Linked DNA regions of Homo sapiens: region 1 is linked to region 2. The links come from fine-mapping of genetic effects on gene expression. A gene starts in region 2. The other region holds a variant in brackets. All regions are shown on one strand. Distances are from middle to middle.

Region 1 (11,610 bases), 32 kb before region 2:
AAAAAAAAAAAAAGAAGAAGAAGAACCTGCTAGGCCCTAGGCCCTTGTGCCATATTAGGTGATTTTTTTTGTTTCAGCAAATCAACATCATCTTTTGCATTAAATTAACATCGCTAATTTCAATTGCATTGGTTTTGTGGTCCTATTTGTATTTAGTTTGTAGATGTGTTGATTGCAAAATAGGCCCTGTAGTTGTCTGAGAATTATAACCATAAGGAGTTAATACCTAGTTTTATGATTGTAGTATTAGTCATGTTATAATAAAAGTAATTTAGGTCAACCCAATTTGGAAAAACACTGAGTCATGCCTGAAGATCTTTTACTTCCTCTAGCCCCAAGTGTCTGCGATTATGCAAATCATGTGTAACAGTTGTGTGGCTATTACTGCAATATTGTTTGGGATATAGAAATCAAAATCTTTCACAGATTTAGCTTGTTTTAGCACAGTCTAGGTTCTCTTTGCAAGGGCCTGCAGCCTCCGTTTTGGGAACTTGAGTCCAATTCTGTTACCCAGCAATCAGAGAGATTGCTAACTAAACTTTATTCTAAGTTTAACACAGTTGGTTGTGTTCTTGTTAACCTCAGAGAGGCCTCTTTTTCCTGAAAGTTAACTGGTCCCGTTATTTGAAAGGAAATTTTAAGAACCTGAACACCTATAGGATTCAGATTCTATTAAAAAGCAAAGGTATACTTTGGGAATGGAGGGGTGGGGAAAGACAGAGAAACTAAAAATAATCTTCCCGTATAAGAGCTTGAAGTGGATCTACCCTAATTATTGCCTCGCTTGTTTTCCTTTTGCAGATATTTTTCCCACTTTTATATCATCTCAGTGCTGTGGAATGGCTTCCTGCTTTGGTGCCTTACTCAATCTCTGTTCCTGGGAGCACCTTTTCCAAGCTGGCTTCATGGTTTGCTCAGAATTCTCGGGGCGGCACAGTTCCAGGGTAAGGACTCCCTGGGCTTATGACAACGCTGCATCCCGTTTCTGTTGTTCCTGTCTGCAAGGGAGCAGTTTTTGGCATTTTGTCTCCTCTCTCGGCACCTCCTCAGAAGGGCCTGGGAAGTGGAGGATGAGGGCAAAAAAGAGCTTTGCACGGTTCATTGCCGGATGGCCAAAAGGATGTCCCTAAGCCCTTCCCTGAGAAGGAGACAGAGCCAAGAGTTAGCGCTCCTGACTTCCCAGCAAGTGCTGTGTTGTGTGCAGAACTGGCTGCCCTCCCTCTGGTATTTTTAGTACTGTTGATAAATTTATGAAGAAGTCTTTACACAAAAGGGGGAAAGCTTTTAGGATCTGTCAGGTTTGTCTGGAAACATTTATCATTTATACTGTTCCAACCAAACTCATGACTTAGAACTCCAGAAATGTGATTTAAAAATTACTTTTTCTGTCGGGTGCGGTGGCTCACGCCTGTAATCCCAGCACTTTGGGAGGCCAAGGCGGGCAGATCACAAGGTCAGGAGATCGAGACCATCCTGGCTAACACGGTGAAACCCTGTCTCTACTAAAAATACAAAAAAAAGTTAGCTGGGCATGGTGGCGGGCACCTGTAGCCCCAGCTACTCGGGAGGCTGAGGCAGGAGAATGGCATGAACCCGAGAGGCGGAGCTTGCAGTGAGCTGAGATCGGGCCACTGCACTCCAGCCTGGGCAACAGAGCGAGACTGTGTTTCAAAAAAAAAAAAAATTACTTTTTAATTCATACCTGTAATCCCAGCACTTTGGGAGGCCAAGGCAGGCAGATCACTTGAGATCAGGAGTTCAAGACCAGCCTGGCCAATGTGGTGAAACCCCAACTCTACTAAAAATACAAAAATAGCTGGGTGTGGTGGCAGGCGCTTGTAATCCCAGCTACTCGGGAGGCTGAGGCAGGAGAATCGCTTGAACCTGGGAGGCGGAGGTTGCCATGAGCTAAGATTGAGCTACTGCACTCCACGCCTGGGCAACAGAGGGAGACTTTGTCTCAAAAAAATAAATAAATAAATGAATAAAATAAATAAAAATTACTTTTTGATAAACATGGAAAAAAAGTTATGCTGTGAGGCTTTGGTAGTATAATAAAATTGACTAAACAGTTGTTGAACAGACGATTACAAAATAGCCTTTAAGTTTGCCATCCTCAGCATCAGGATGAAGAATATGGAACGTTTTTTTTTTTTTTTCTGAGATGGAGTTTCGCTCTTATTGCCCGGGCTGGAGTGCAATGGTGCAATCTTGGCTCACTGCAACCTCTGCCTCCCAGGTTCAAGCGATTCTCCTGCCTCAGCCTCCCAAGTAGCTGGGATTACAGCCATGTGCCACCACGCCCAGCTAATTTTGTATTTTTGGTAGAGAGATGGTGTTTCTCCATGTTGGTCAGGCTGGTCTCGAATTCCTGACCTCAGGTGATCCACCCGCATTGGCCTCCCAAAGCGCTGGGATTACAGGTGTGAGCCACCGCGCCCGGCCAGAACAGTTTTTAAAATAAAGAATTGAAGGTGAAAACTATGAAATGTCCTCAATTAAGGTCAGGCAGAGTGTGAGGGGCAGAATTAGAAACAAATTGTTCTAGTCTCATCTCTGTCCTTTGTTCCAGTGGCCAAACCACCTAGAAACAATCCTTTTCTGTATAACCAGATAAACTGGTTGCAAAAGATGACAATCAGAAGAGCAAACCCCGGCCGGGTGTGGTGGTTCATGCCTCTCATCCCAGCACTTCAGGAGGCTGAGGTGAGCAGATCACTTGAGGTCAAGAATTCAAGACCACCTTGGCCAACATGGTGAAATCCCGTTTTTACTAAAAATACAAAACTTAGCTGGGTGTGCTGGCACATGCCTGTAACCCCAGCTACTCGGTAGGCTGAGGAGAGAGAATTGCTTGAACCCAAGAGGCAGAGGTTGCAGTGAGCCAAGATTGTAACGTTGCACTCTAGCCTAAGAGGACAGAGCAAGACTCCGTCTCAAAAAAAAAAAAAAAAAAAAGAGCAAACCCTGCCGGGAACAGTGGGCAGTGACTCATACCTATAACCCCAGCACTTTGGGAGGCTGAAGCAGGTGGATCACTTGAGGTCAGGAGTTCAAGACCAGCCTGGCCAACATGGTGAAACCCCCGTCTCTACTAAAAATACAAAAAATTAGCGGGACGTGGTGGCGCGTGCCTGTAATCCCACTTACTCAGGAGGCTGAGGCAGGAGAATGGCTTGAACCCAGGAAGCAAAGGTTGCAGTAAGCTGAGATCATGCCACTGCACTCCAGCCTGTGCCACAGAGTGAGACTCCATCTAAAAAAAAAGAGCAAACCCGTGGACATCCTCTTTGGAAGGGTAGGCTACATCAGCGGATCTCACTCCACTCGTTAAAACTTCATCTCTTCGTTTGTTTACTGTGAGACTGACTGGGGTGTTTTGGTATTTGGAGGGTTGGTTGTGAGGATATGAGGAATTCTATTTGTTTGCTTTAACTTGTTCCTAAGGAGTTAAAACTAAGTTTTAGTTCATTTAAAATACAAAAACAGTCAAAGCTAATCTGTGCTGATAGGGGTTGTTCCCCATGGGAAGTTTGGGGGAGGGGTCGTGCCTACACTAGGGGGTGCTGTTCGTGTTCTGTTTCTTCTTTTTTTTTTTTTTGAGATGGAGCCTTGCTCTGTTGCCCAGGCTGGAGTGCAGTGGCCTGATCTCAGCTCACCACAACCTACCCCTCCCGGGTTCAAGCGATTCTCCTGCCTCAGCCTCCTGAGTAGCTGGGACTACAGGCATGCGCCACCATGCCCGGCTAATTTTTGTATTTTTAGTAGAGACAGGGTTTCACTCTGTTGGCCAGGCTGGTCTTGAACTCCTGACCTTGTGATCCGCCTGCCTCAGCCTCTCAAAGTGCTGGGATTACAGGCATGAGCCACCGCATCCAGCCTGTTTCTTTTGTTTGTTTCATTTTTTTCTTTCTTTTTCTTTTTTTAAGAGAGAGGGTCTCACTCTGTTGTACAGGCTGGAGTGCCGTGGCATGATCATAGCTCACTGCAGCCTTTAACTCCTGGGCTCGAGCAGTCCTCCCTCCTCCACCTCTTGAGTAGTTGGGACTACAGGTGCACGCCACTATGCCCAGCTAATTTTTTTTTTAATGTTTTTAGAGATGGGGTACCTGCTGTGTTGCCCAGGCTGGTCTCAAACTCCTGGTCTCAAGCGATCCTCCAACCTCAGCTTCCTAAAGTGTTCTGTTTCTGGATCTGGGTGCTGTTACATGGGTGGGATTGGTTGGCTTAATTTGTAAAAGTTAATTAAGTTGCATCTTTATGGTGTGCATGCGTGTGTGTGTGTTTGTGTGTGAGACTTTTTTTTTTTTTTTTTTAATGGAGACAGAGTCTTGCTCTATCTCCCAGGCTGATTGCAGTGGCCCAATCTTGGCTCACTGCAACCTCCACCTCCCAGGTTCAAGCAGTTCTACTACCTCAGCCTGCCAAGTAGCTGGTTCTACAGGCGCACACCACCATGCCTGGCTAATTTTTTGTATTTTTAGTAGAGACAGGGTTTCACCATGTTGCCCAGGCTGGTCTCGAACTCCTGAGCTCAGGCAATCCACCCGCCTCCAACTCCCAAAGTGGTAGGATTACAGGCATGAGCCATCGCCCCCGGCCGTGACTCATTTCTTTTTTAAGTGACTGGGCGTGGTATCTCACACCTAAAATCCCAGCACTTTGGGAGGCTGAGGCTGGAGGATGGCTTGAGGCCCGGAGTTCGAGACCAGCCTGGGCAACAAAAAAAATTTTTTTTTAATTAGTCAGGTGTGGTGGCACATGACTATAGTTCTAGCCACTCAGGAAGCTGAGACAGAGGATCACTTGAGCTCAGGAGTTCAAAGCTGCAGTGAGGCCTGACTGTGCCACTGCACTCTAGCCTGGGTGACAGAGCAAGACCCTGTCTCAAAAATAAAGAAGTTGACACATAAAATTAACCAAAAAATAAAAAACAAAAAAGAAAAAAAGAGAAACTAAGTGTGTGTTTTTTTAAAGCCAGCTTTTCTTCAGATTTTTTGGTGGGCAGGTCGTGAAAGACAGGTGAGGAAGTAGATCTTGGGCTCAGCATGCCTCTAAAAGTATAATTTCTTTTTTTTAATGTGGAAAGAAATGCATAACTCTGTTTCTGTTCCTGTCCCCCTCTCTGCCTCTGTGATGCCTGAGATACTGGGGATCCCACAGCTGGGGCCACTCAGAGGCTACCAGGAACGCTTCCAGTTTGCATCTGGCTGTTAGTGCCAGGACCAGAAACCCACAGACCTCTTCACAGACCTCCTGACCGTGATGTCCCTGAAGCCTGGAAGGCTGTCACACAATGAAGCAGAATTGAGTGATGGGTGTTTGTGAACCCAGTGAACTGTGTAACACAGTGAACTGTGTAATTTGAGTGAAGTCAAATTCCTTGACTTCATTTGGCCCATTTCTTCCTTACTACCAAAAAGAAAGATGTTAGATGGGATTTAATACTTTGCTTAACAGTACAGAAAAACAAAACTTTGGATTAATCCCAGAAGAGAAATGCTGACCCTGTTGCCTTCTGAATTGTAGGAGGGGAGCTGGCACTGTCTGCATTCTTAGTGCTAGTATTTCTGTGGCTGCACAGCTTACGAAGACTCTTCGAGTGCCTCTACGTCAGTGTCTTCTCCAATGTCATGATTCACGTCGTGCAGTACTGTTTTGGACTTGTCTATTATGTCCTTGTTGGCCTAACTGTGCTGAGCCAAGTGCCAATGGATGGCAGGAATGGTGAGTGGATCCAGCCCTGCCAGGAGCTCCCCACCCCAGGGTGTATGATGCGCTCTCGGGGCTTGTGCTGTGCTAAGCATTATGAGACATGCAGAAGTAAGAGACAGGCCCAATGCATTTTGCATTTCAGGAGATGAGACTCAAGTCGATTTTAAAAGGCCGGGCGTGGTCGCTTACACCTGTAATCCCACCACTTTGGGAGGCTGAGGCAGGTGGATCACTTGAGGCCAGGAGTTCGAGACCAGCCTGGCCAACATGGTGAAACTCTGTCTCTACTAAAAATTAAAAAAAAAAATTAGCCAGGCGTGGTGGCACACGCCTGTAGTCCCAGCTACTGGGGAGGCTGAGGCAGGAGAATTGCTTGAAACCAGAAGGTGGAGGTTGCAGTGAGCCGAGATCGCGCTACTGCACTCCAGCCTGGGCAACAGAGCGAGACTCCATCTCAAAAAAAAAGAAAAGAAAATGAGGGAAGGGAGAGTGCTTGCATGGAGTTGGGATTTGCAGAGGGGGTGGGGAGCCATTTTGTTGCCGCTTAGTTCCTGTGATTGTTCCCATCACAATAGAGCTTTTCTTCAAGTGACGCTGCCTGAGAGGAGAGGACAAAGAGTACTGTGGTAGTGAAAATTGTGTTTTAGTCTCTAAGCTCTCACTAGCCAGGAAGAGGGGAGCCAAACCATGAC[C/T]TTGTTTACGAGAAGGAAATGAAATGGATTTTTTGTTTTATGGGGGGAGGAGGGGACATTACCTAACACATATGACTACCATTTTTGTAAAAACAATGCATGATTATAAAGAATTCAAGTCGCTTGGGGTGATGGGAATGAGTTTATAGTGCTGAGGTTAACCTGACCTTGCAGCCTTAGTATCTGTCAGTCTAGACCCCGTAGGTCTGTAATGACCATTGTCTCTAAACCCAGGGCTCCATGTTTTCAGCTGCCCTGTCCATCCTTGTAAACTCAGGCTGAGGTCTAGCGATTTCCAACAATCTGTGAGTGAGCTTCCTCCTCAGGTTAGATTTTGGTATGAGTGCCCCGTGAAAGTCGTCTCTCTGTTGCTGTAGCTCAACCTAAGGCCTCTGACTAGAGGAGTGATTTTAAAGGATTTATTGACGATCTTTCTCAATTCATGAATTATTGATTGGCTCCAGCCACTTAGCTAGCATCTCTCTGATTCCTCTGAACTTATTCCTCCCAGGCATGTCTGTGGTGGCATTCTGCCAGCCAGTACCATGGAAGGGGCTGTCATTCCTGGTGGGCAGTGCTGGTTCTCCCCCTAAAGGAACTTTGCAGAGCGCTTGGTGACTGCTAGCTTTTAGCGTGTTCTTGTTTGTTGGCGTTACCTGCCTCTCCCGGAGTTTCCTCTACTGGCTGCGTCTCAACTTCTGCCTTCCCTCCTGCGTAGATAGTCAAGGAAGAGGAGCCCACAAAAATAGCTTTCTAAGCACTCCTTTCTGAAGCTGTTTTCTGTTTCACCTCCTTGTCCTTCAAGGGTCATCTGGGATCATTTAGGACAATATGGGGAAAGTTGGTTTCAGTAATTCATTGAGAGAAAACACATTGGGGCATTTGCCAACCAAAGGGCGTGATAGAAATAACATGGGCTCCAGAGTCTTGATGGGCCTGCATCTGGCTCATTGAGCTTCTCTGAGCCTCACAGCCTTCATTAGTAATTATTGACACATACTGATTTCACAGGGTTCTTCTTAAAGTGAAAAGAAGACTATCTGTAAACTAGGATGTAAGCTCTATAAGGACTGGGATCTTGCCTGACTTATTCCCTGCTTTATCCTTTGTGCCTTCAGCAGGGCCAGGCTTAGGAGGCACTCCTTAAGTAACTAATGAATAAACAAATAATTAAATACTGAGTAGAACTGAGGAAATGTGAGCCTTCCACCTGCCTCCCTTTTCCTGCATTATAATTCTGGCGTTACCCTTAACAAATCCTTTTTCCTGTAGGTAAACTCTCTGCATTTAGCATAAGGGACTTAGTGATTTGAACTTCCAGACACTGTAACTTTTCATCCTGTTGACTTGCTCTTGAAGCCTGTCAGATTTAAAACTGTATTTTTAATATTTTGCTTATTTCATTTTTGTAGAGACAGGTTCTCGCTATGTTGGCAGGCTGGTCTCAAACCCCTGGCCTCAAGTGATCCTCCTGCCTTGGCCCCCGCAAAGTGCTGGGATTACAGGTGTGAGCCACTGTACCCAGCCTGTTTTGAACTTATAAAAATATAACCTAGTAGTTAAATGGCTAAACTTGTAAACACTAAAAGACTATAGTAGATTGATTATATAAAACAAGCTTTTAAAATAAACTGACACAGGTAGACCGGTGGATTTTCATCAGTCCTTTACTATCATTAACGGATTCCTGCTTCGAGGTGGCCATGTGGAATTGCATGATCCTTGGTTCTCTTACTTGAATCAGCTTTTTAGGGTTCCCCCTTGGCTCCAGAGCCTCAGGCTCTTGCCCATTATCAGTGGATACATTTGTTTCTTCAGTCAAGCCTCCGACTAGGCTAACTGCTTCCTGCTGCGCAGAGGGAAGTCCCTGTTTGCTTTTCTGAAGCCAGTGGTTTGCTCCGCAGGTCCTCAGAAGGTCTGTGTTTTTCCCTTCTTCCTAGCAGCCGGAGAAGAAAGTGGAAGATGATGCTTTGAGTGTTTCCACTCCTGAAACTCAGTCTCTCGACTGTTCTTTCTCATCCAGACCTGGATGGCATTGAGTTGTTCATCTTGCAGTTTACTGTCCCTCTCTTTTGAGAAAGCCCCCTGGTAGCCTTTCCACTGGTGATTTCTTTCATTGACCAGAGCTAGTCAAGTCAGCATTCTGCTTTCAGGCTCTCCCTAGCAGGATGGTAGCTCAGAGAGAGATTTCCTTAGAAAGTGTTTTTCTTCACTGTAAAACATAAGAAAGAAGACTTAAAACTGGACTTAGCAAGGGAAACACAAAGGAATCTTACCATTCGAAAGTAGATCACAGTAGGGGAGCTGAACTTTGTGCTTGAACTGTTTAGAGAAGAAGCAAGAGAATGTGTCTGTGTGGAATTCTCTTGCCAGGGGAACTGAAGCTGCCCATAGCTGAGGAACGTATCTCCTTTGTCCAGAGAGACAGGGCTTTTCCCTCTGTATTGGGAAATTACATCAGGAAATTACATCGGGATATTGAGGAACAGGTTCCCCTCTTTGTACTTGGGAAATTATATTAGGATATTGAGGAACGGAATAAGTGGATAATTGTGTTTCTGCTGACTAAATGATTTGTTTAATTCCCTGAGCCTGTGAAATTGTTTAGTGTTGGCTAACAATTCTCATTCCTATAGCCTACATAACAGGGAAAAATCTATTGATGCAAGCACGGTGGTTCCATATTCTTGGGATGATGATGTTCATCTGGTCATCTGCCCATCAGTATAAGTGCCATGTTATTCTCGGCAATCTCAGGAAAAATAAAGCAGGTGAGACCTCTTTTAGAGCCTCTGCATATGGATTTTAACCCTCAGAAGTTAGTTCTCCATGGTCCTGCATGCTTTTCCTTCCTGCCCTAGTTAGTTGACTGTATCAAATATTGATTTTTGGCAAGACACTTCTCTGGGCCTTGATCTTCCCATCTGTGAAAATGAGAGCCTTACATTGAAAGACCTCTCTAGACCCAAGTAGCCCTGACATTCTGTGATTCTACGTTTTGTGTCTGATCAGCATGTGAGAGCTAGTGTTACCATGGAGTTAGTACCAGCCACAGCATAAAAACTTGACCTTTAAGTTAGCTTGTGTTGACTTATCACAGGTATAGTTTCCATTAGGTTTTTTGAAATATTAAAAATTGAATAGGCCAGGCGCAGTGGCTCACGCCTGTAATTCCAGCACTTTGGGAAGCCAAGGTAGGAGGATCACTTGAGGTCAGGAGTTCAAGACCAGCCTGACCAACATGGCAAAACCCCGTCTCTTCTAAAAATACAAAACTTAGCTGGGTGCGGTGGTGCAGGTGCCTGTAGTCCCAGCTACTTGGGAGGCTGAGGCACTAGAATCACTTGAACCTGGGAGGCGGAGGTTGCAGTGAGCTGAGATCACGCCACTGCGCTCCAGCTTGGGTGACAGAGCTAGACTGTCTCAAAAAAAAAAATTGAATAGTTTTATTTATTTATTTATTTATTTATTTATTTATTTATTTAATTTTTGAGATGGAGTCTTGCTCTGTTACCCAAGCTGTAGTGCAGTGGCACAATCTCGGCTCACTGCAACCTCCGCCTCCAGGGTTCAAGTGATTCTCCCGCCTCAGCCTCTCAAGTAGCTGGGACTACAGGTGCGCACCACTATGCCCAGCTAATTTTTGTATTTTTTAGTACAGACAAGGTTTTGCCATGTTAGCCAGGGTGGTCTCGAAATCCTGACCTCAGGTGATCCACCCACCTCGGCCTCCCAAAGTGCTGGGATTACAGGCGTGCACCACTACACCCGGCCTATTATTTATTTATTTTATTTATTTATTTTTGAGACAGAGTCTCACTCTGTCACCCAGGCTGGAGTGCAGTGGCACCATCTCAGCTCACTGCAACCTCCGCTTCCTGGATCCAAGCAATTCTCATGCCTCAGCCTCCCAAGTAGTTGGGATTACAGGCGTGTGCCACCACATCTGGCTAATTTTTATATTTTTAGTAGAGCTGGGGTTTCACCATGTTGGCCAGGCTGGTTTTGAACTCCTGACCTCAGGTGATCCGCCCACCTCAGTCTCCCAAAGTGCTAGGATTACAAGCATAAGCTACCGCGCCCAGCCAAAAAACTGAATAGTTTTAATATTTATCAAGTACTTATTTTGTCCCAGGCCCTGTTCTGAGTGCTTTACATATAGCTTCACAATGCCGACATGAGATGACTACAGTCCGGTCTTCATTTTACAGATGAGGAAACTAAGGCACAAAGAGGTTAAGCAACTTATCTAAAGTTACACAGCTAGTAAGTGGGAGAGCCAGGATTTAAACTTGTGCAGTCTGACTCTGGAGTAGTCTGAGCTCTTAATTACTAGCTTGGAGGATTGCTGGAGTAACTGGCTTTTCTCTTGTGCTATGGACAGTTGACAATTTAACCTAAGCATATAACTTTTCAATATGTAATTGACAGTAGAAGTGTGACAGGATGGTGGTTTACACACATGTATGATACTCTTTTCTAAATAAGAGTTTCTGGGCTGGGCAGGTTGGCTCACACTGGTAATCCCAGCACTTTAGGAGGCTGAGGTGGGAGGATCACTTGAGCCCAGCAGTTTGAGACCAACCTGGGCAACATAGGCAGACCCTGTCTCTACAAAAAATTCAAAAAATGAGCCAGGCATGGTGATGCATACCTGTGGTACTAGCCACTGGGCAGTTTGAGATGGGAGGATTGCCTGGGCCTGGAAGGTTGAGACTACAGTGAGCCATGACTGCACGACTGCACTCCAGCCTGGACAACAGAGCAAGACTTTGCCTCAAAAAAAAAAAAAAAAATTCTGTAAATGATTTGCGAGTGAAGTGGTGAAACTTTCTTTTCAAACCTTTAAATGCTTATGAGATCTTCTTTTACCCTTTCAGGAGTGGTCATTCACTGTAACCACAGGATCCCATTTGGAGACTGGTTTGAATATGTTTCTTCCCCTAACTACTTAGCAGAGCTGATGATCTACGTTTCCATGGCCGTCACCTTTGGGTTCCACAACTTAACTTGGTGGCTAGTGGTGACAAATGTCTTCTTTAATCAGGCCCTGTCTGCCTTTCTCAGCCACCAATTCTACAAAAGCAAATTTGTCTCTTACCCGAAGCATAGGAAAGCTTTCCTACCATTTTTGTTTTAAGTTAACCTCAGTCATGAAGAATGCAAACCAGGTGATGGTTTCAATGCCTAAGGACAGTGAAGT
Region 2 (11,610 bases):
AAATTTGCTGGTGGATTGGATGTGGGGTATGGGGAATCTAATGGAGTAATCTAATATGGTGGATGTTGGTTCCATTTACTAAGATGGAAAGCCTGAAGGAGGAACAGGTTTTTGGAGGGACATCAAAAGACCTGTTTTGCCCTTGCTCTGTTGGAAATGCCTGTGAAACATCCAGAAGGTGATGCAAGGAAAGAGTTGGATAAATGAACCTGGAGCATGTATTTAGCATTCTTTTTGGAATTTTCAGCCTGCTTGTGGAAACCTAGGAAAGCCCAAGAATGTAGGGAAACAGCTGCCCTCCCTTTCCCCTGCACCAGCAGAGTTCGCATACAAGGGTCCAGATCCCCATCATTTAAAGGGGTTTAGCAAGCTGATGGGTAGCAGTGTGCTTCGTTTCATGAGCTTTAAAGAGTTGAGAAGGTCAAGCAAGTTGCATATTGCTATTCGTCATTCACTTACATTTGCTGAGTGCTTTAATTTTTTTTTTTTTTTTTGAGACAGAGTCTTGCTCTGTTGCCCAGGCTGGAGTGCAGTGGTGTGATCTCAGTTCACTGCAACCTCCACCTCCCGGGTTCAAGCCATCTCCTGCCTCAGCCTCCCAAGTAGCAGGGACCACAGGCACACGGCACCACACCCAGCTAATTTTTGTATGTTCAGTAGAGATAGGGTTTCACCACATTGGTCAGGCTGGTCTCAAACTGCTGACCTCAGGTGATCCAGCTGCCTCGGCCTCCCAAAGTGCTGGGATTACAGGTGTGAGCCACCGTGCCCAGCCTGAGTGCTTTAAATTTGAATGATCTTCAGTTGACTCTTAGCGTGAAGTTTCTGGTTTTTGCTTCTCCTCTTTCCTCATATCTCCCTGCCCTGGCTTCTTTAACCAACCTTTGCTCTGTGGACTATTTAAGGAAAAAACTTTAATCGGCCCTTTGCTGATTATGGGGAAGGAGGGTTCTCCAGCAGAGCTCAGGAAATAGCTCACTTCTCCCTATTTCTGAAACATTGAGGATGAAAACAGAGAGTGACACAGACAGGAGGCCGGGTTGGAAGGAATAGTTTTAGGTCTGGTGGCCAGGTGGACTGGGCTAATACTGAACTCCAGAATCAAGAGCTGTTGAGTTGCAGGCTGCACTGGGCTAGGGGCAAGCCCTGGAGAGAACAGCAGATAATGTTTTTCCCTTAGGGGTCTGTCTCCCCAGAGGAAGAAGGCAATGAAGCTGAGCCCAATATGCTCAGTTACCCTGCTCAGATGGACTCTACATTATCAGAGGGGAATGACGAAGGCACTGAAAGAGGCCAGGAAATAGTCCTTTTCTTTTTCTTTTTTTTTTTTTTTTGAGACAGAGCATCTCTCTGTCGCCCAGGCAGGAGTGTAGTAGCGCGGTCTTGGCTCACTGCAACTTCCAATTCCCGGATTCAAGCGATTCTTCTGCCTCAGCCTCCCAAGTGGCTGGGACTACAGGCACACACTACTACGCCTGGCTAACTTTTGTATTTTTAGTAGAGACGAGGTTTCACTACATTGGCTAGGCTGGTCTCAAACTCCTGACCTCATGATCCGCCCGCCTCGGCCTCCCAAAGTGCTGGGATTACAGGCATGAGCCACCGCACCCAGCAGGAAATAGTCCTTTTCAATAGAACCCTAGAGTGGAGAAACAGCATTCTCTAACAGTTAATGAAAATGTTCACCATTAATTAATTGGCTGGTCTTATATATTTAAATTTTCATAAAGTAGATTTTCAGTAAGTGGAGCATAGGTGAATTCAACAAACAGGTATGAGGCATAATTCTGCTACTTACTAGCTGTGTAATTTGAGGAAAGTTCCTTGACCTAAGTCTCAGATTTCTCATTTGCAAAAAGGAGGATAGAAATAATTCATGTAACACACTTAGTGCTCTGACTGGATCAGAATAGCATTCAATAAAGTTTTACTACTACTTTAATGATAACTATTCCCATTACCTTCTTATATAATCTACTAGGTGCTAGAAATATAAAGATAAAAGGCATAACCTTACCATCTAGAAGCTTAAGGCTTAGTAAGGGTGTTGGAATAAAAGACATTAAAATACAGTGCAGGCCCGGCTCAGTGGCTCACACCTGCAATCCCAGCACTTTGGGAGGCCGAGGTGGATGGATTACTTGAGGTCAGGAGTTCGAGACCTGCCTTGCTAACATGGTGAAACCCTGTCTCTACTAAAAATACAAAAATTAGCCAGGCATGGTGGCGGGCGCCTATAGTCCCAGCTACTTTGGAGGCTGCGGCAGGAGAATCGCTTGAACCTGGGAGGTAGAGGTTGCAGTGAGCTGAGATCGCACCACTGCACTCCAGCCTGGGTGACAGAGCGAGACTCCATCTCTACATAAATAAATAAAAAATAAAATATAGGTCAGGCACAGTGGCTCATGCCTATAATCCCAGCACTTTTGGGAGGCCAAGGCGGACGGATCACGAGGTCAGGAGATCAAGACCATCCTGGCTAACATGGTAAACCCGTCTCTACTAAAAATACAAAAAATTAGTGGGGCGTGTAGCACATGCCTGTAATCCCAGCTACTCAGGAGGCTGAGGCAGGAGAATTGCTTGAACCCGGGAGGCGGAGGCTGCAGTGAGCCGAGATCTTGCCACTGCATTCCAGCCTGGGCAACAGAGCGAGACTCCACCTCAAAAATAAATAAATAAATTAATTAAATAAAATACAATGTAATGCACATGTAGTAGGGTTTCTTTCCATAGGATGCCTGACAGTGGTTACATTTTAGTAAGACTATATCGGTGTAGGCTATGATTAAAAAATATATCATCTTGGAATTGTTGCGCCACCCACATCCTTATTGGGTAGGGGGTTAAATAAGTAGCTTCAGTTGTCCTTCAAGAAAGGTATCAGGAAAGCTCCTATAGTTTTTTAATTGCTTTTTTTAAGGGAGTTAGTCACCAATGAGGACTAGAAGGATGATGGCTCTAAACCCTCAAGGTGGTGAAAACTGGAGCCAGCCTCGATTTAGCACGCCTGAGCACGGATCCCAGGAGGTAGATGTGTGTGGAAACAGAAATACCAGATCCCATGAGAATCAGACACCTAGAGCCTAGCCTGGCAGCACCTGAAGGCCCTTGGATCAGGGTGACACTGGGGCAGGCTAGAAAGGTCTCACTCTGGCCCAGATTCTGATGCTTTGCTGACACCACTGTGCCAGTTCGCCAATGCTCTATCTCCATTTATGTTACATCTTCTGCCAAATAGCTTTGCTGCCTTGCCCCTGAACCACTGCATGCTCAGCAGCTGGTGCTTCAGCATCCTGCAGCTGTAGCCCAGAAGTCCTCACTGCCTCATATGTTGAGATGACTGAATTTGGCCAGGAGTCCTTCCTGTGAGAAAGCCCTGGAGTGTGGGCAGCCCATCCTAGAAAATAAACAAAGCAGCTTTCAGCAATGAGGGACACACAGCCAGTTTTGCTACATTCACCCTTCTGGCTCTGTCTTCAGCCTAAGCTGCTCCTTTCAGGTCCCTCCCTTGGGACCTCAAGCCTCCCTTTCAGGCCCCTTTTAAGCACAGCAAATCCTGTATGCATTAAGGGGAGGTAGTTGAAGTTTGGGCTTCTGGGTTTTATGTTATTACTGGCTTCTGAAAGCTCAAACATTTGCACTCCAGGGATGATAGTTGCATCTGTTAAATTTAGTGTAAAGCTGCCTCCTTACATATTTTAAGTTAGGCCTAAAGGTTTCCCCATACATGGTGAACTGTAGCCTAATTGGGTATGTAAACAGACTGTAACCTATTCTTGTACCAATCACAGAGTTCTGGCCAATCACAAGTGGCCAACTGTTCAAACCGTGTTCAAATAGGGCAAACCTGAGCTACAACCAATCCAGCTGTTTCTGTCCCTCAATTATGTTTTCTGTAAGTCACTTTATTTTTTCCGACCACTCGGCAAGACTGGAGCCTCTCTGAACTTACTTTGATTTGGGGTCTTTTTGATTTGCAGATCATTCTTTGGGTTCTTTGCTTGATTAAACGCTGTTAAGTTTAATTTGTCTAAGGTTTTTCTTTTAACACACCCCAAACTGTAAGTGGAGGCATCCTACTTACACAGTAATAGAAGAATGCATAAAGCAATAACATGAAGGAACAAGTGACAAATTCTGTAACGCCATGTGTTGGGGAAAAGTTCTGAGAGTGGAAGCTTGAATAGGTTTTGGAAGTATGAGTAGGAGTTTACAAGGAGAGAATGGAAGAAGGGGAATTACGGACAGAATAACATGGACGGAGGCCGGCCGCGGTGGCTCACACCTGTAATCCCAGCACTTTGAGAGGACGAGGCCGGCAGATCACCTGAGGTCTGGAGTTCGAGACCAGCCTGACCAACATGGAGAAACCCCATCTCTACTAAAATTACAAAGTTAGCCGCGTATGGTGGAGCATGCCTGTAATCCCAGCTACTCGGGAAGCTGAGGCAGGAGAATCTCTTGTACCCGGGAGGAGGAGGTTGCAGTGGGCCGAGATCTCACCATTGCACTCCATCCTGAGCAACAAGCGCGAAACTCCGTCTCAAAAACAAAAACAAAGAAAACAACAAAACAAAAAAACAGACGGAAATTTTATTATCCTGTGACAAACACTGTATCTTTGGTGAACTCAAAGTAGGTTTGCCCACTTTCCCACAGATTGTTTTGGTGGATTAATTTTTTGTTTCAGTTAGTGATAAACTTCCTTAGCTCTTTACTGAGTACAGGTTTACTGTATGTAAATATGTATAATATTAGATTAGTGCCTGGCACATGGTTAGCACTATCGATTTTTATTAGGGACTAGGTCTCAAACTTATGGTAATTAAGTAGCTCACTTTTTCTTTTGGGAAGACGTAAAAATATTCTCAAGCCTAACTCAAGACCATCCTTTCCTGTCTTCTAGTCTTGCCCACTCAAAGCTCCATCCTGCAAAAGTCTTAAACAGTCCATTTCAAAAGCCCAGCATTTTTAAAGGGTCTAAGGAATAGCACAAAACAAGATGCACCCAAAACGTCAAGGCCATACTGGACAAGGGCAACGTTAGCCATTTTTGGTCTGGGGTAATTATAGGCAGTATCTTAAAACAAGGCTTGAAAAATGTCATGTTATTTCCAAATCCCATTTCAGAACTTTAAAAAAAAAATAGCATTTTGAGCTCCTAAGAACGTTTTTGGCGGTAGGTGGCCACATGGAGGGTGGCACAGAGGCTCGGCGGGGGAGAGCGGAACAGAGCTGGGCGTGGCAGTGCCTGCGAGTCAGCGCCACGTAACCAGAGGCGCTCGCACTAATTTGACCTCTAAGAGAGACTAAGCGCAGGGAACAGCGGGTGCGGACATTACGGCGGAAGGCTCTGGAGGAAGCAGAAGTGAAGGACCTCGCAGTCCTGGGACGGTGGGGCACAGAGAGAGAAAGGGAGCCCCGGGCGCGGCGCGGTGAGGATGCGAGCAGAGGAAGGACACGCGGCGCCGGGTACCTGCCGGGAGCGCCGGATCCAATGGGAGGAGGGCCCGCGCCGCACCTCAACCTGGCAGAGGACGTCACGACGCCAAGGCGGTCGCCGGGCCAATGGGAGGCCGTCGCGGGCAGGGACGGGGCCGGGAGGAGTCGGGGCTGGGCCGCGCCGAGGCAGCTGGCTGACTCCAGTTTAGCCGCCGCCGGAGAGGACGGGCGCCGAGCCGGGGCTGCGGACTTCGGCCTGCCCCTCACCTCACTCCCGCTGCTTGCACCTCCCGGATGGTGCTGACTGCTCCCTAAGCGGCGGCGGCGGCGAGTCGTGAGGACGCGCCGCGGAGGCTGTTCGGGGTCGAGGCTTCCCGTCGCCGGCACTTCCTCTTGCGGCGCCCGTGCGCGGCCGGCCCGGCAGGCGGGATGGCGGCCGCGGCTCCAGGGAACGGCCGCGCATCGGCGCCCCGGCTGCTTCTGCTCTTTCTGGTTCCGCTGCTGTGGGCCCCGGCTGCGGTCCGGGCCGGCCCAGATGAAGACCTTAGCCACCGGAACAAAGAACCGCCGGCGCCGGCCCAGCAGCTGCAGCCGCAGCCTGTGGCTGTGCAGGGCCCCGAGCCGGCCCGGGTCGAGGTGAGCGGGCCGGGATGGGGCGAGCGAGGCTGCAGGGCCGGCTGCGCCGAGTACCAGGCTCCAGGCCTTTGAAAGCGCCGCACTCCGCCGGCCTCGGCTGGGGGAGGGGAGCCCGGCCCCTGCTCCCGGGGTGGAGGGCGGTCGGCTGCGCTGTTTTCCGGTGAGGCCTGGTCTTGCCCGCTCCTTTAGGGAAAGGGAGAGGGAGAGTCCAAGAGGAGCCCGCTATAAACGTTGATCTCCGGAGGGCCAAGATGCTGCTCCGGGATGGGCGTTTTATTGATCAGATGTGTCTTAGAGTAGCTAGAAAGACTCATCCCTACCAAAAAGTTTTTAACAGAAGGCTGCTAGGAGGCTTTTTGTATTCCCTGAGGATCATCACATCGGCCATTTCATTGTTGAAATAGCTTATGCCAAACTGCTTACCCAAATTCAACTTGGCACTGCCTGTGCTTTTTGCCAAATATGGATTATGAACCATGACTCTCACTTTTTAAAAATGTGCTTTGGCTAGCAGGAAGTAGCCTTTAGGAACGCAGAGGAATTAGTCTCCGGCAGTACAGCGTGCTGCAGCGATGTGGGATGCCAAAACTACATTTATAAGTAAAACAGAATCCTGTATTTTGTCCTTCCCTGAATAGATACTAGAAATCAACTTTTTAATCTGTTAATAGAATTAGTCCTTAGTCACTTGGCAGCGTTTTAACATTTCTCCCTTCTCCCAGTCGTGGGCTTTGTCGTCATTTCCAGTATCTGCTCCCTGAATCCCGGCCAGTGTGGCACTCAAACCCCCACTCCCACCCAGGCCACATCCAGCCCATCTCCACGTAACTAATCTTCCCGAACATTGAATTCTGCCATCTTGTCAGAAGTCGTCGGTGAGTTGCCTCCACTAATTTCAGTCCAGCCTTTTTAGGAGAGTGATGTTCAGGTTTCTTCTGATCTGGCTCCAGCTCACCTCCAGGCTTTTTAGCCACCGCTTTCTTGCTCATATGCTAAAGGGATATGCTCATCTGCAAAAAAGAATGTGCTTCAAGAGCCCTTTGGGACAGGCTTTGTGCTCTCTTGCCAGTTCCTCCCTAACACAAGACCTTTTCAAAGAAAAAAAAAAAAAGACCTGGAGTTTGAAGCCACGGATCAACTCTTCCCACCTTGGAGAACCAGCAGATACCTACTCTCTGTGAAGACTTCCCTAAAATTTCTTGGTTAAGGGTGATTTATCTGACCCTTTCCTTTCCTTTCCTTTCCTCTCCTTTCTCCTTTTTCCTTTCCTCTCCTTTCTCCTTTTTCCTTTCCATTCCTTTCATTTCTCCTTTCCTTTCCTTTTTCCTTTCCTTTCTCCCTTCCTTTCCTTTTTCCTTTTTCTTTGTTGAGACAGGGTCTCGCTCTGTCGCCCAGGCTGGAGTGCAGTGGCCCCGTCTTGGCTCACTGCAACCTCTAATTGATCCTCCCACCTCAGCCTCCTGAGTGGCTGGGACTGCATGCGTGTGCTGACACGCCCGGCTAATTTTTGTTTATTTTTTTTTTTTTTGAGAGAGGAGGTCTCACTATGTTGCCGAGTCTAGTCTCAAACTCCTGGGCTCAAGCGCTTCTCCGGCCTTGGCCTCCCAAGTGCTGGTGAGCTCTCACACCGGTGCATTGTTTTCGTGTTTCATGTTTTCGTTACATGTTACTTTCTTAGGCTTTTCCAATTTTCTGTTGTTTTTCTGTGTAAGACCGTAGGATAGAACTTTCTGAGAGACTGATCTTGGTTTCACTAAGCAAGAACATTTGTAAGAATCAGTGCTGTCCCAGATGTAGTAATCGCTATTGAGAAATAATGAAGTTCCCCTTACTGGAAGTACTCAGGAAGAAGTTGAATAACTAACTGCCTATGAGGAGATTCTGATATGGGAGGGAATCTGGGAGATAAAGTTACTGGGAAGTGAAGATTCTGGGAGCCGATTTAATCCTCACAACAGCACGTTAAACAGGTAGAGGAGGTTTGTAAGGAATAGTGGTTTAATATCACAGAGCTAGAAGCTAGTTTCAGCAGAACCAGAATTAGAATCTGGACTTCTGTGCCTTACTAAGTTTTATTAGCATTCATTGTGTCTTACTCTTTTGACTTATTTAATTCACTAATGGATTTTAATGGTTTATTGGATTGTATGCTGGTGCAGTTCTTTGATCTTGAGCCTAGCTTTCTCTTTCTCCTTTTTTGGGAACTTTATTGTGTATGTTGTGGCATGTTTACACACACATCTTGCTGCCTTGGGTTCTTGCAAGTTGTGTGCGTGTTTTATCTGCCCCTACTAGCTTTTAGGTGTCTTGAGAGCATGACTCTGGCTTACTCATCTGTCTATTCCAGAAGACCTTGTCTGTTCTTGGCATTTATTAACTAATTTTCTAAGACTGGGTTGAAGTAGTTGCATGTCAAGTTTATATCAGCTGTTAAATACCTTTCTGGAAAAACTGGCTGTAAAATAAACTCAACCAGGAAAAAAAAAAAAAAACAACAACCCGATTTTTAATAGTGTCTATCCAACCTTTTTTTTTTAAGTTGCAAGGGATCCACCAGATGGAATTAAGAGAACTAAGCTTTTATCATCTGCTGGATATAATGTGATTTTGTAACCATTATTGGATTGGTGTTGGTTTAGACAGTTTATTTTCAGCTGACTATATAGTTAATTCCGGGACTCTTATAAAGTTTTTTTTAAAAAGAGAAAAAGAGAAGATCAAAAGCACTGGAACTCAACGAGTAAATAACCCATGGTAACAGAGAGATATAATGCAGTGATGTCAGAGGTGTACAAGAAGTGTGAATCATTTAACATGTGAAGCCAGGGTCTTTAGTCCACTTGGGGAGAGCAAAGAGGTGAGTGGGCTTCTCCATCTTTTTCCTTCTGCCTGCCCTGCTACCCCCAGCCATATGCTTAGGAGTGGGGTTCCCATTTACACTGCCCTGCTTGTCGCTCCTGGCTCAGCTGACCCTGCTTGACATGTCCACTTCAGTAATTGAACTGAAACGCTGATTGATGAACTTAATTCTTAGTGTTCATCTTTTAGCCCTGTCATTTACCCCAGTATCACATTTATTTTAAAACAATAACTATTTTGGATTAAGTTAATTGTGTGAGTGAGAGATTATGAATATGTAACTTTGCAGGTATTTTGTTGAAGTTTTAGTCATATTGGAATTTTTAAGATAGAAATGATGGTAGGTGTAGAGCTACTAATATCCTTTTTAAGAAGCTAGGAAAAATCTAGCCATGCAGAATGCCACAGTGGTAGAAACAGTGTCCAGTAAACATATTAAATGGTCTTAAGGATTCTTGTCTTTTAAAGTTTTATTTAATTTTTTTTATAGAGACAAGGTCTTCTTATAGCTCATAACTCATTGCAGCCTCCAGCTCCTGGACTCAGGCCATCCTCCTGCCTCAGCCTTCTGAGTAGCTGGGAAGGGATCCTTGTCTTTAAAACTAGGGGTATGGAGGGAAGGGTGGGTATAATATAATATGATTTTTCCGTTTAATATTTTCATATATTCTTGGTGATTCATTTTAGTTAGGCATTTATTTATTATTGTTTATTCTAATTTTGTATTATAATAGAATATAATTGTCTTCTTTTCTTCCTTTTTTTTTTTTTTAGAGACAGGGTCTCACTATGTTGCTCAGCCTGCCCTCAAACTCCTGGGCTCAAGGGATCTTCCCCTCTTGGCCTGCCAAAGTGGTGGGATTACAGGCATGAGCCATCATGCCTGGCCTTGTCTTGTTTTTATTTTATATATATAATATATATAAAAAATAATATATAAATATATAATTTATATTTATATTATATATTAATATATTAATGTAATTAATATTATATTATATTAATATATAATATATAATATAATATTATATATTATATATAATATTATATATAATATTAATACTGTATTATATATAATATAATATTAATTATATTATATTAATATAATTAATTATATTAATATAATAATAATAAATAATATTAATATAATTAATATATTTATATTAAAATATAAAAATATAATATATATAATATATATATATTTTTTTGTCTCACTCTGTCGCCCAGGCTGGAGTGCAGTGGCGTGATCTTGGCTCACTGCAAGGTCTGCCTTCCAGGCTCACGCCATTCTCCTGCCTCAGCCTCCAGCATAGCTGGGACTACAGGCGCCCGCCACCATGCCCGCCTAATTTTTTGTATTTTTAGTAGAGACGAGGTTTTACCGTGTTAGCCAGGAGGTCTCCATCTCCTGACCTGGTGATCCGCCTGCCTCGGCCTCCCAAAGTGCTGGGATTACAGGAGTGAGCCACCACGCCTGGCCTTAATTATATTTTTATGTAACTTTTTGATACTACTCAAGTATTTTTTCCTCTACGGTACTCACTATGCTGAAAGATTTTTCTTTCACATGTTTTCTAAACTATGTAATATAAGTGTCATTGGCTATTTTTGTCCACCTGATGGAGGTAAGAAATGATCAAAGTACAGTTTAACAGCAGTATTAGCAAGAGTTGAGCCTTGCTGAATATGTAAGTTTCAACGGATTTGCTTTGCAACTACATGCAGTAGATGTTTTAAGAGGGTAGGTAGGATATTTAAATTTAACCTTTTTGTGCCACTGTGTGAGAGTGGGCTTCTGAAAATGGAGGGGGGAAGCATCTCTCCTTGGTTAGTAGGCATTCAAGTGGAAGATATGTTATAAAAACCTAGTTGTATCTTATAGGATGCTAAAAGCAAGGTGACTGAACTTCTAACAGGGCATTCTACATTGAGTATGTGCTTTTCTCTATAATTAGGCTAAAAAAAGGTTGGTAAGTAATATGAACTTAAAATCAAGATTAACCCCCAATTTACAAACCCATGATAAAAAGTGTTGTTGATTACTTGGATCCTATCTTTTCTGCAGTTTATGTTTCTAGTGACTTACTCAATAGTTTTTTCTTACTCTTTCCCTGGACAGAATATGTAATATAAGAAACATAAGTCCTTTGAGTTGAGGGAGATCAGATAGATTTAATAAAAGTCATTTAGACTTTATTGCATATTCTGGAAGTCCAAAGAAGAATGACTCTGGTTGCATAGCACTTCTAATAAAGCCACAAAATCATTACCTGACTCAGTGCCTGTTCTTGTTATCATATTTTTACTTTATGTTTTGGTATTTCATTTATTTATTACGTTTCAGCTGTGAGAGTACCTTCTACAAAACATTTTAAACTTTTTTCTATTTTCATTAAGTTGCAGTCCCACTCCACCCAGTCCAGCCTCCTAATTCTAGCCTTTATACAGCTAAGATTGAGGCAATCAGTTATAAGGACGCCTGCTCATAATTACCTTCTCAGAAGGTAATTATATTAATACTGAATTTATTTAGTGGTATGCTGTCATCAAAAAAATTCATTAAAAATAAAATCAATGAAGGCCGGGCGCAGTGGCTCACGCTTGTAATCCCTCCACTTTGGGAGGCCGAGGTGGGTGGATCACCTGAGGTCAAGAGTTCTAGACCAGCCT

Alleles and levels. Positions count from the first base shown, and alleles are read on the strand shown. Sizes are in standard deviations (SD) of each study's normalised expression.
For the expression in tibial nerve of the gene that starts at base 5,642 in region 2, allele C in region 1 goes with a higher level than allele T (moderate effect, 0.49 SD a copy in GTEx).

Evidence for each region.
Region 1: its variant is fine-mapped to the expression of TMEM165 in tibial nerve (GTEx, PIP above 0.99).

Annotation. Positions count from the first base shown.
Region 1 is chr4:55,358,545-55,370,154 of GRCh38, forward strand. SRD5A3 (steroid 5 alpha-reductase 3) reads left to right here. Exons shown (of 5, transcript NM_024592.5): 2 at 802-944; 3 at 5,530-5,727; 4 at 9,044-9,178; 5 at 11,288-11,610. The coding sequence ends at 11,547. SRD5A3-AS1 (SRD5A3 antisense RNA 1) reads right to left here. Exons shown (of 4, transcript NR_037969.1): 4 at 8,057-8,619. Among named protein-coding and RNA genes, the nearest start is that of LINC02928, 13 kb to the right of the region's middle. RefSeq lists enhancers at 6,032-6,720, 6,721-7,408. The variant C/T (reference allele first, on the strand shown) is at 6,408.
Region 2 is chr4:55,390,316-55,401,925 of GRCh38, forward strand. It overlaps TMEM165 (transmembrane protein 165), which reads left to right and starts at 5,642. Exons shown (of 6, transcript NM_018475.5): 1 at 5,642-6,081. The coding sequence starts at 5,875. RefSeq lists silencers at 5,448-5,647, 5,848-6,317 and an enhancer at 7,818-7,867.